2 separate regions of the Homo sapiens genome follow, and region 1 is linked to region 2. Evidence: fine-mapped expression QTL. A gene starts in region 2. The other region holds a variant in brackets. All regions are shown on one strand. Distances are between the middles of the regions. Region 1 overlaps PPP3CB (protein phosphatase 3 catalytic subunit beta). Region 2 holds the start of NUDT13 (nudix hydrolase 13).

Evidence for each region. PIP is the estimated chance that this variant, and not a neighbour inherited with it, causes the effect. A credible set is the group of variants that fine-mapping cannot tell apart.
Region 1: its variant is the best candidate, but not a certain one, in a credible set for the expression of NUDT13 in whole blood (TOPMed, PIP 0.57).

What each region holds. Positions count from the first base shown.
Region 1 is chr10:73,453,986-73,459,372 of GRCh38, reverse strand. It overlaps PPP3CB (protein phosphatase 3 catalytic subunit beta), which reads left to right. Exons shown (of 14, transcript NM_021132.4): 10 at 4,884-4,961. Among named protein-coding and RNA genes, the nearest start is that of MSS51, 23 kb to the right of the region's middle. The variant C/A (reference allele first, on the strand shown) is at 2,194.
Region 2 is chr10:73,107,788-73,113,174 of GRCh38, reverse strand. NUDT13 (nudix hydrolase 13) reads right to left here and starts at 2,720. Exons shown (of 9, transcript NM_015901.6): 1 at 2,608-2,720.

The DNA.
Region 1 (5,387 bases), 350 kb before region 2:
CTGGGACTACAGGTGCCCGCCACCATGCCCAGCTAATTTTTATATTTTTAGTAGAGACAGGGTTTCACTGTGTAGCCAGGATGATCTCAATCTCCTGACCTCCTGATCCACCCGCCTCGGCCTCCCAAAGTGCTGGGATTACAGGCGTGAGCCACCATGCCCGGCCTATGTTTTCATTTTCTTGAGTATAGACCTGGGAGTGAAATTGCTGGGTCATATTGTAACTCTATGATTAACCTTTTAAGGATCTGCCAAACTGTTTTCCAAAACAGCTGTACCATTTTATTGTTGTTGTTGTTTTTGAGACAGAGTTTTGCTCTTGTTGCCCATGCTAGGGTGCAATGGTGCGATCTCGGCTCACCGCAACCTCTGCCTCCTGGGTTCAAGTGATTCTCCTGCCTCAGCCTCCTGAGTAGCTGGGATTACAGGCACGCACCACCACGCCCGGCTAATTTTGTATTTTTTAGTAGTGACGGGGTTTCTCCATGTTGGTCAGGCTGGTCTCAAACTCTTGACCTCAGGTGATTGTCCCACTTCATCCTCCCAAAGTGCTGGGATTACAGGCATGAGCCACTGCGCCCGGCCTTAGCTGTACCATTTTACAGTTTCATCAGCAGTGTATATATTCTTTGGATGAAAAAATATATATATTTTAATAAATATACATTTTAATATATAAACATATACTTTACATATGTAAAATATATTTTAATATAGAAAATACATGTATATTTTAATATAGAGACAGGGTTTCGCCATGTTGCCCAGGCTGGTAACTCCTGAGCTCAAGCAGTCTACCCGCTTTGGCCTCCCAGGGTGCTAGGGTGACAGGCATGAGCTACCACACCCAGCCGAGGATGAATATATTTTCAAATCCTTTGCTTATTTTATAATTGGGTTATTTGTCTTAAAATTTTCTTTATTAAAAAATTTTTTTGCCAGGTGCGGTGGCTCACACCTGTAATCCCAGCATTTTGGGAGGCCGGGGCGGGTGGATTACCTGAGGTCAGGAATTCAAGACCAGCCTGGCCAACATGGTGAAACCCTGTCTCTACTAAAAATACAAAAATTAGCTGAGTGTGGTGGTGCGTGCCTGTAATCCCAGCTACTCAGGAGGCTGAAGCAGGAGAATTGCTTGAACCTGGGAGACAGAGGTTGCAATGAGCCAAGATCACACCACTGCACTCCAGCCTGGACAACAGAGTGAGACTCCGTCTCTAAAAAATAAAACAAAACATTTTTTTGTTGTCTATATAAATTTATGAAGTATAAGTGTAATTTTGTTACATAGATATATTGCATAGTGGTGAAGTCAAGGCTTTTAGTGTATCTATCACCAGACTAGCATACATTGTACTTATTAAGTAATTTCATCTTCCACACCTCTCCCACCTCTCTACCCTTCCAAGTCTCCTTTGTCTATCATTCCACACTCTACCTCCATGTACATATATTATTTAGCTTCCACTTATGAGAACATGCAGTATTTTTCTGTCTCAGTTGTTTCATGGGAGATAATTATTGAGTTGTGTTTTTTAGATATTCTATATGCAAGTCCCTTACGTATATGATTTACAAATAATTTTCTCCCATTCCACTTTCACTTTCTTTCTTTCTTTCTTTTTTTTTTTTTTTGAGACAGGGTCTTGCTGTGTCACCCAGACTGGAGTGCAGTGGTACCATCTTGGCTCACTGCAACCTCCACCTCCCAGATTCAAGCGATTCTCCTGCTTCACCCTCCCAAGTAGCTGGGATTACAGGCATGTGCCACCATGCCCGGCTAATTTTTGTATTTTTAGTAGAGACAGGGTTTCACCATGTTGGTAAGGCTGATCTCAAACTTCTGGTCTCAAGTGATCCACCTGCTCAGCCTCCTGAAATGCTGGGATTACAGGCATGACCCCCGGCCTAGCTGACTTTCACTTTCTTGATAATGTCCTTTAGGCTTTCACTCCATCATCTAGGCTAGAATGTTGGAGTGCAATCGTAACTCACTGCAATCTCAAACTCCTGGACTCAGGCAGTCTTACCGCATGGCCTTCCAAGTAGGTAGGACTACAGGCATGTCCTACCATGACTAGCTTTTTTTTTTTTTTTTTTTTTTTTTTTTTTCTTTTTTAGAGATGGGATCTTTGTGTTGCCTAGGCTGGTCTCACACAAATTACTAGGCTCAAGTGATCCTCCTTCTTCATT[C/A]TCCCAGGTAGCTGGGATTACAGGCACATGCTTCCATGCCTGATTTTTTTTGTCCTTTGAAGCACAAAAGTTTTCTAATTTTTTAAAAAAATACATTTTATTGTGTATATTTAAGGTATACATCGTAACAGCTTTATTGAAATATATATACTATGCAATTCATCTATTTAAAGCATACAATTCAGTTGGTTTTAGTATATTTCTAGAGTTGTGTAACCATCAGAAAGACTAATCTTTCTGTCTCTATAGATTTGCCTTTGCTAGACATTTTATATAAATAAGGTCATATGGTATATGGTATTTTGTGACTGGCTTCTTTCAAAAAGTTTTTTAATTTTGGTGAAGTCATATTTATCTGTTTTTTCCTTTGTTGCTTGTGTTTTTGTTGTTATACCTAAGAAATCATTGCCTAATCCAAGCTCATAAAGATTTGCCCGTTTTTTTCTGAGAGTTTTAGTTCTTACATTAGGTGTTTGATCCATTTTGAATTAATTTTTGCATGTGATGTGCAGTAGGGGGAGTGCAGTTTATTCTTTCGCATGTGACCATTTGCAGCTTTATTCTTTTGTAGTTGACCATTGTTGAAATGACTGTTCTTTAGCCACTGAATTGTTTTGGCACCCTTGTCAAAAATCAATTGACCTTAAATATCAGGTTTTCTTTCTGGACTCTCTGTTCTGTTGTGATAAATGACTACTACATCACTTTTTTAACTTCTGTTTAGAATGCCTTATCTGCCCTCTCCACTTGGCAAACTCCTAGTTCATGATTCCTCTCAAATGTTATCTAGCAAAAGCCTTGCCTTCCCCAGCAGGTCTTCCCCAGCAGGTCTTTTGCATATCTTTGAACACTTACAGCATGTTTTCCATCAACCTTTTGCAGTTGATATTTAATGTCTCCTTCAGTAGTTAGTAAGCTTGTTGAAGGTAGAGACTGTGCCTTTCATATCTGAATCCTAGAGCTTTAATGTAGTACTTGACATGTGGGGTGCTTTTAGTATATTTATTAGCAGGAAAAAGTGGTTTGTAGAAGTATTGAATTTTGTTTTGGATATGTTCATTTCTAGGTGCCTTCAGGACATCTAGGTGCTAATATTCAATAGACATTTTTATTTATTAATTGAAATTTGCTTTTATCTTTCTTATTTTGTGTACTTATTTGTTAGATATTTATTGAGTACCTGTCATGTGCCAGGGCACAGTGCCAGGCTCTGAAGTTATAATAGTGAATTAAACAACATCCTACACTCATGAAGTTTTCATTCTAGTAGGGGAAACATACAGTATACAAATGGTTTAAGACAGTTGACAGGCTGGGCGCGGTGGCTCACGCCTGTAATCCCAGCACTTTGGGAGGCCAAGGTGGGCGGATCACGAGGTCAGGAGATCGAGACCATCCTGGCTAACACGGTGAAACCCCATCTCTACTAAAAAAATACAAAAAATTAGCCGGGCGAGGTGGCGGGCACCTGTAGTCCCAGCTACTCAAAAGGCTGAGGCAGGAGAATGGCGTGAACCCGGGAGGCGGAGCCTGCAGTGAGCCGAGATCGCGCCACTGCACTCCAACCTGGGCGACAGCGAGACTCCATCTCAAAAAAAAAGACAGTTGACAATAAAACTAGCCAAGGACATCTAGAGCCTGAAGGAGAGGTCAACACTGGAGATACAGACTTTGGAGTCATCTTCAACGAGGTGATAATTGAAACTGTAAATATGATAATAGACAGAAATTCCAAGTGATTGAACATATAGGAGGAATAATAATGCAGAGAGAATCTTGAGGATATCCAAAGTTTTGGGGAAAAATGATCCAAATGTGGGAAAACCAGAAGAGCAGAATCTTGGGAACCAAGGGAAAAGAGAAGGAAAAAAATATACAGAATAGTCAAAGAGGATTAAGCCTATGAAAGAGCCAAGGGTTCAGATTGTTAGATAGTCATTAGTAATCTTTAGAAGTAAATTTCAAGAGAGTTGCTGAGCCAGTTTTTAAAAGATTAAGGCCAGGCGCAGTGGCCTACGCCTGTAATCCCAGCACTTTGGGAGGCCAAGGCGGGTGGATCATGAGGTTAGGAGTTCGAGACCAGCCTGACCAACATGGTGAAACCCCATCTCTACTAAAAGAAAAAAAAAAAATACAAAAATTAGCTGGGCATGACGATGGGTGTCTGTAATCCCAGCTCCTTGGGAGGCTGAGGCAGGAGAATCTCTTGAACCTGGGAGGCAGAGGTTGCAGTGAGCCGAGATCACGCCACTGCACTGCAGCCTGGGCAACAGAGCAAGACTCCATCTCCAAAAAAAAAAAAAGATTAAATCCTGAGACTTTTTGGAACCACTAAAACTCTGCCATGATTTTTTTTCTTATTATGCTATATCCATGAATGAAGATTTGAAATGTATACATTCAGTTGTTATTCATCTCTGTTCTTATCTCTATGGGGCTTCATTTTTTTTTTTTTTTGAGAGGCCTGAAAATTTGTTCCATAAAGAATCTCTTTCTCTCAGAGTTGTTATCCACTGAATTTCTTTCATTTTGAAAGCCTTTGCATTTTTAAATTCCATCGATCTTGGTATAAGAATGTGTTTGCTTTCTTGGGCTAAACATTATTTGACCATTTGTAAAAATAGTTGCTATGTGTATGTATAGACAGTTATATATGGTCAGCTAACATGTAACTTTTTTTTCCCAAATAGTGACAGAAATGTTGGTAAATGTTCTGAGTATTTGCTCTGATGATGAACTAATGACTGAAGGTGAAGACCAGTTTGATGGTATGATTATTCATCTTACTATTTTTTTTTTTACTGTGAAATGGTATTTCTTTACTGCCTAGCCTCAGTACACACTATTTTGCAAAAAATAGTCATTGCTTTCAGAGACTATGCTATTTGATAAGTAACAAGTTACTTTTTTTGGATATTAAGATTTGAAAATAATTTCAGTGATTTCATTTTTTTATTGTAATATGGGGAAGAAGATGAACTTTGGGAAAGGAGAAATTTGGAAGAAAGAAGATAAGGAAAGGAAAATTGAAGTGTTAAAAGGATGTAGTTCTTGGCAAATATGGACACTGGTTAGAGAAAAGAGGATAAAAATACTATTTGTTTTATTAGAACAATATTCTTAGTGCATCAGAAGCATACCTGAACTCCCAATTTTGCTTTTCCTGCCTTTTAGACACTAAAATAGACTGCTTC
Region 2 (5,387 bases):
TGGCTCACGCCTGTAATCCCAGCACTTTGGGAGGCCGAGGCGGGCGGATCACCCGAGGTCAGGAGTTCGAGACCAGCCTCACCAACATGGAGAAACCCCATCTCTACTAAAAATACAAAATTAGCTGGGCGTGGTGGCACACGCTTGTAATCCTGCCTACTTGGGAGGCTGAGGCAGGAGAATCGCTTGAACCTAGGAGGCAGAGGTTGCAGTGAGCAGAGATCGTGCCATTGCACTCCAGCCTGGGCAACAAGAGCAAAACGTCGTCTTAAAAAAAAGAAAAAGAACAAATAGAAAATAATATAACAGTGAAAAAAATATATATATATAGTAACAGGGAGAGAGACTTAGAACACATTATTAAGTAAACAAAAAAAGCAAGGAGGAATTGGAGGTGATACTAGTCAAAGTGTACAAAGTTTCAGTTAGGATGAATAAATTCTGGATATCTATTGTGTTGTATGGTAACTATAGTTCATAATATATTATATACTTGGAAATTACTAAGAAAGTAGATATTAAATATTCTCAACACACACAAAAAATGTGAGGTGATGAATATATTAATTTGCTAGATTTAATCATTTCACAATGTATACCTGTATCAAAACATCACATTGTAAACTATAAATATATACTTTTTTTGTCAAAAAGTATATATTATACTTTAATACCTTAATATTATACCTTAATAAAGCTGGAGAAAAAAACAGGTAACAGTTGGTTAACATGACCTAATTATTTATAAAAAAAAGGACACAGACATACCAATATACATAAATTATATGTATTTAATTATATTTTTCTTTCTATTTTTTTTTGAGACGGAGTTTCGCTCTTGTTGCCCGGGCTGGAGTGCAATGGCGCAATCTCGGCTCACCGCAACCTCCACCTCCCGGGTTCAAGCGATTCTCCTGCCTCAGCCTCTCGAGTAGTTGGGATTACAGGCATACGCCACCACGCCTAGCTAATTTTGTATTTTTTTTAGTAGAGATGGGGTTTCTCCATGTTGGTCAGGCTGGTCTCGAACTCCTGTTCTCAGGTGATCTGCCTGCCTGGGTCTCCCAAAGTGCTGGGATTACAGGCAAGAGCCACTGCCCCCGGCCTTATTTATATTTTTCAAATGACTAGAAGTATACATACCAAACTATTAAAGAGTGACTAATTTGGGGGAGTGGGATGAAGACAAATATTGAAAAAGGTGCCTGTAATTTTTATTTTGTTCATTTTTCTGTACTGAAAAAAAAATTAGCCATGTGTACTTATTCCTTTTAAGACAAAAGAAAAGCCTAATAAAATAGTAGTTCCTGAGACTAACTGGTTAATGAGGCTACCTCCATGCCACTGTTCCCCAAAACACCTCACCATATTCCATGAGCCAAAGGGAATTCATTTGGTGAGTTTCTTGGACCTTGGGAACTGCTGCCTGATGTTTTGCCTAGTTTCTGCTACTAAATTAACCTTAGCCAGTTGTAGATTATCATGGCTGCTGACTCATGAGCTGATGGTCACAGAGCTATTTATGTTTTTAAAAGTACAATGTTTGATAGAGATGAAAGGTAATAGCAGTCTTACCCAACTACTAAATGATGAGGCAAGGTGCTTTAACATTAAGAGTTTCTTTGAACTCCCCAACACAAATGATTCACACGTTTCTTATCCTGTTCATCTTTCCAGAAGAAAGATTATAAAGTACTACAGCGTGACAAAAAAGCCCATCTTGTAGTGAGCCGAGATCGCGCCACTGCACTCCAGCCTGGGCGACAGAGCGAGACTCCGTCTCAAAACAAAAAAACAAAACAAAACAAGACAAAACAAAAAAAGCCCATCTTGAATCTAGTGGTTACTTCCACCGTGAAGAGGCCAGGTTCCCTAGTATTTAAGAGACCTTTTTTTAGGCCGGGCGCGGTGGCTCACGTCTGTAATCCCAGCACTTTGGGAGGCCGAGGTGGGCGGATCACGAGGTCAGGAGATCGAGACCATCCTGGCTAACACGGTGAAACCCCGTCTCTGTTAAAAATACAAAAAAAAGTGGCTGGGCGTGGTGGCGGGCGCCTGTAGTCCCAGCTACTAGGGAGTATGAGGCAGGAGAATGGCATGAACCCAGGAGGCGGAGCTTGCAGTGAGTGGAGATCGTGTCACTGCACTCCAGCCTGGGCGACCAAGTGATACTTCGCCTGTGTTTAGAGTCCGTTTCTCCACGACTGTGGACCTCCATGGGACAGGGAAATATGGAAAACTGAGGAACCACGGGAATACAGCTTTGAAGGTCTCACTGACCTGCTTTATAGTTTGCTTTCTAAAAAATAATTTTCCCTCCTTTAAAAAAAAATAAAAATTAAGGCACAATGTGAGAGGTTGGCAAGTTCCATTTTTAAATGACTCTCCAAAAAAGTATCAGAAAATGATGAGCTGTGGTTACTGATGTAGCTCCACAGTTATGAGGCAAAACTATGGTTATATCCCTGGTTTCTGCAAAAAGGAAGAGATTAAGCTAAAATGTTAAAATGCTGTGACCACGACCTTTTTTCAAGTTCTGATCATGCCTCCCTGTGAAGTCCTTCCTGCACTTAGAAGCTGAGCAGGTTTCTGTTTCACTGTACTCACTCTGAATTCTTTTCGGGGCACCTTCCTAGTCCTCAGGAATCAGCACAAAAGAGGAAACTCCAAATGTTCACGTTCAACGGCTTCCGTTCCCTGGAGGGACCATTGCTGCTTCTGCCACACTTCCCAGAATCCTCCTAGAGATGCACTCTGGGAATTGTAGTTCAGTTCCCAGGCATGCTGCTGTGTTCTCCAGCTGCAAGTTAACCATGATTGTCAAAAGCATGAACATCTAAGATCTTATTACCAAGAGAACTACTGTATCCTTGGAGAAAGTAGGTTAGTATTAGATCCATTTTTTAATTAAAAAAAGATAAAGTCATTAAGTCCACCCTCATACACAGAAGGCATATATTATGAGGCTGGGGAGAGGATGAAGCAGGGGTGGGAATCAAATACCTTTTAACCTTAGTATATCTCTAGTTCTCTCTCTGCACACTTTAGAACTAGCTCTAAAATTTCATGAAGTTCTTCCAATTTAAAAGGATGGGACTCTGTATAGGTATGTATAGATATGTTTGAACTTATGGTAGGATTCATTTCTTGATCAGAGGAAGCGCATTCCATTTGACTGGAAGTAGTCTCCTAGAAGTGTGTCCGGAGTTGGTTCCTTCCAGTGGGTTCTTGGTCTTGCTGACTTCAAGAATGAAGCCGTGGAGCTTTCGGTGAGTGTTATAGCTCTTAAAGGTGGCACGAACCCAAAGAGTGAGCAGCAGCAAGATTTATTGTGAAGAGCGAGAGAACAAAGCTTCCACAGCGTGGAAGGGGACCCGAGTAGGTTGCCGCTGCTGTTGGGGGTGCCAGCTTTTATTCCCTTATTTGTCCCTGCCCACATCCTGCTGAATGGTCCATTTTACAGAGCACTGATTGGTCCATTTTATGGAGTGCTGATTGGTCCATTTGACAGAGTGCTGATTTGTGCATTTACAATCCTTTAGCTAGACACAGAGTGCTGATTGGTGCGTTTTTACAGAGTGCTGATTGGTGCGTTTACAATCCTTTAGCTAGACACAGTGCTGATTGGTGCATTTACAATCCTTTAGCTAGACACAGAGTGCTGATTGGTGTGTTTACAATCCTTTAGCTAGACACAGAGCACTGATTGGTGCATTTTTACAGAGTGCTGATTGGTGTGTTTACAATCCTTTAGCTGGAAACAGAGTGCTGATTGGTGCGTTTACAATCCTTTACCTAGACACAGAGCGCTGATTGGTGCATTTTTACAGAGTGCTGATTGGTGTGTTTACAATCCTTTAGCTGGACACAGAGTGCTGATTGGTGCATTTTTACAGTGTGCTGATTGGTGCATTTACAATTCTCTAACTAGACAGAAAAGTTCACCAAGTCCCCACTCCACCCAGGAAGTCCAGCTGGCTTCACCTCTCAGCAGAGCTACTTTGGTGCTGCTCTCTTCTCGTTTTACTACTGAAGTTACTTGCCTATGAGAGAAGACACTTTTTTTTTTTTTGAGATGGAGTTGCTCTGTCGCTCAGGTTGGAGAGCAGTGGTACGTACAATCTTGGCTTACTGAAACCTCCTCCTCCGGAGTCAAGTGATTCTCCTGCTTCAGCCTCCCGAGCAGCTGGGATAACAGGTGCACACCACCATGCCTGGCTAATTTTTGTATTTTTAGTAAAGCCAGGGTTTCGCCATGTTGACCAGGCTGTCTTAAACTTCTGACCTCAAGTGATCCACTCGCCTCAGCCTTCCAAAGTGCTGGGATTACAGGCGTGAGCCACCGCACCCAGCCAAGAGAAGAAGTCCACTCATTCAACATGTATTTAATGAGTACCCAATGTGCCTAGGACTGTTATAGGGATAGGATACAGCAGGGAACAAAACATGAAAATCTCTGTCCTCATGTAACTTACATTCTAGAAGGGGAAACAAACGAGTAAATATACAATGTGTCGTGGTTATAAAGCTTAAGAAGAAAAATAAAGCAAGATAAGTAGAGGGATTATTTTGCTATTTTATATAGGATGGTCAGCCTCATTGTTAAGATAATATTTAAACAAAGACCCTGAAGAAGGTGATGAAGAAACCAAATTTATATCTATGGAAAGAGATTTGTAGACAGAGCAAAATAAGCATATGCAAAGGCCCTGGGGTGGGAGTGTGCCGTTTGAGGAAAGGCTAGGAAAGAGCATGGTGATCAGAGATGAGATCAGAGTAGGCCGGGCATGGTGGCTCATGCCTGTAATCCCAGCACTTTGGGAGCCCGAGGTGGGCACATCATTTGAGGTCAGGAGTTTTAGACCAGCCTGGCCAACATGGTGAAACCCTACTAAAAATACAAAATTAAGCCAGGTCTGGTGTCACATACCTGTAGTCCCAGCTACTTGGGAGGCTAAGGCACAAGAATCGCTTGAACCCGAGAGGCAGAGGTTGCAGTGAGCTGAGATTGCGCCACTGCACTCCAGCCTGGGTGACAGAGCGAGACATTGTCTGAAAAAAAAAAAAAAAAAATCAGATTGGTTCATTATCCTTAAGGAAGACACAGAAAATTGTAGGGAAACAAGATATAAAGTCAATGGATTCTAAGGATGCTTAGGGGGAAATTGGGGCTCTAATAATTTAAAAAGTCAAAATAACTTTTTGTAGTAATTGTTAAGTGCTATAATAATAAAAATAGCTCAGACTGAGCATTTGCTGTGTTCCAGGCACTATGCTAAGTGTCCCACATATTTGTCATTAATCCTCACATCCTATGAAATCTGTATTAAAATTTGTACTTTAGGCTACGTGTGGTGGCACACGCCTGTAATCCCAGCACTTTGGGG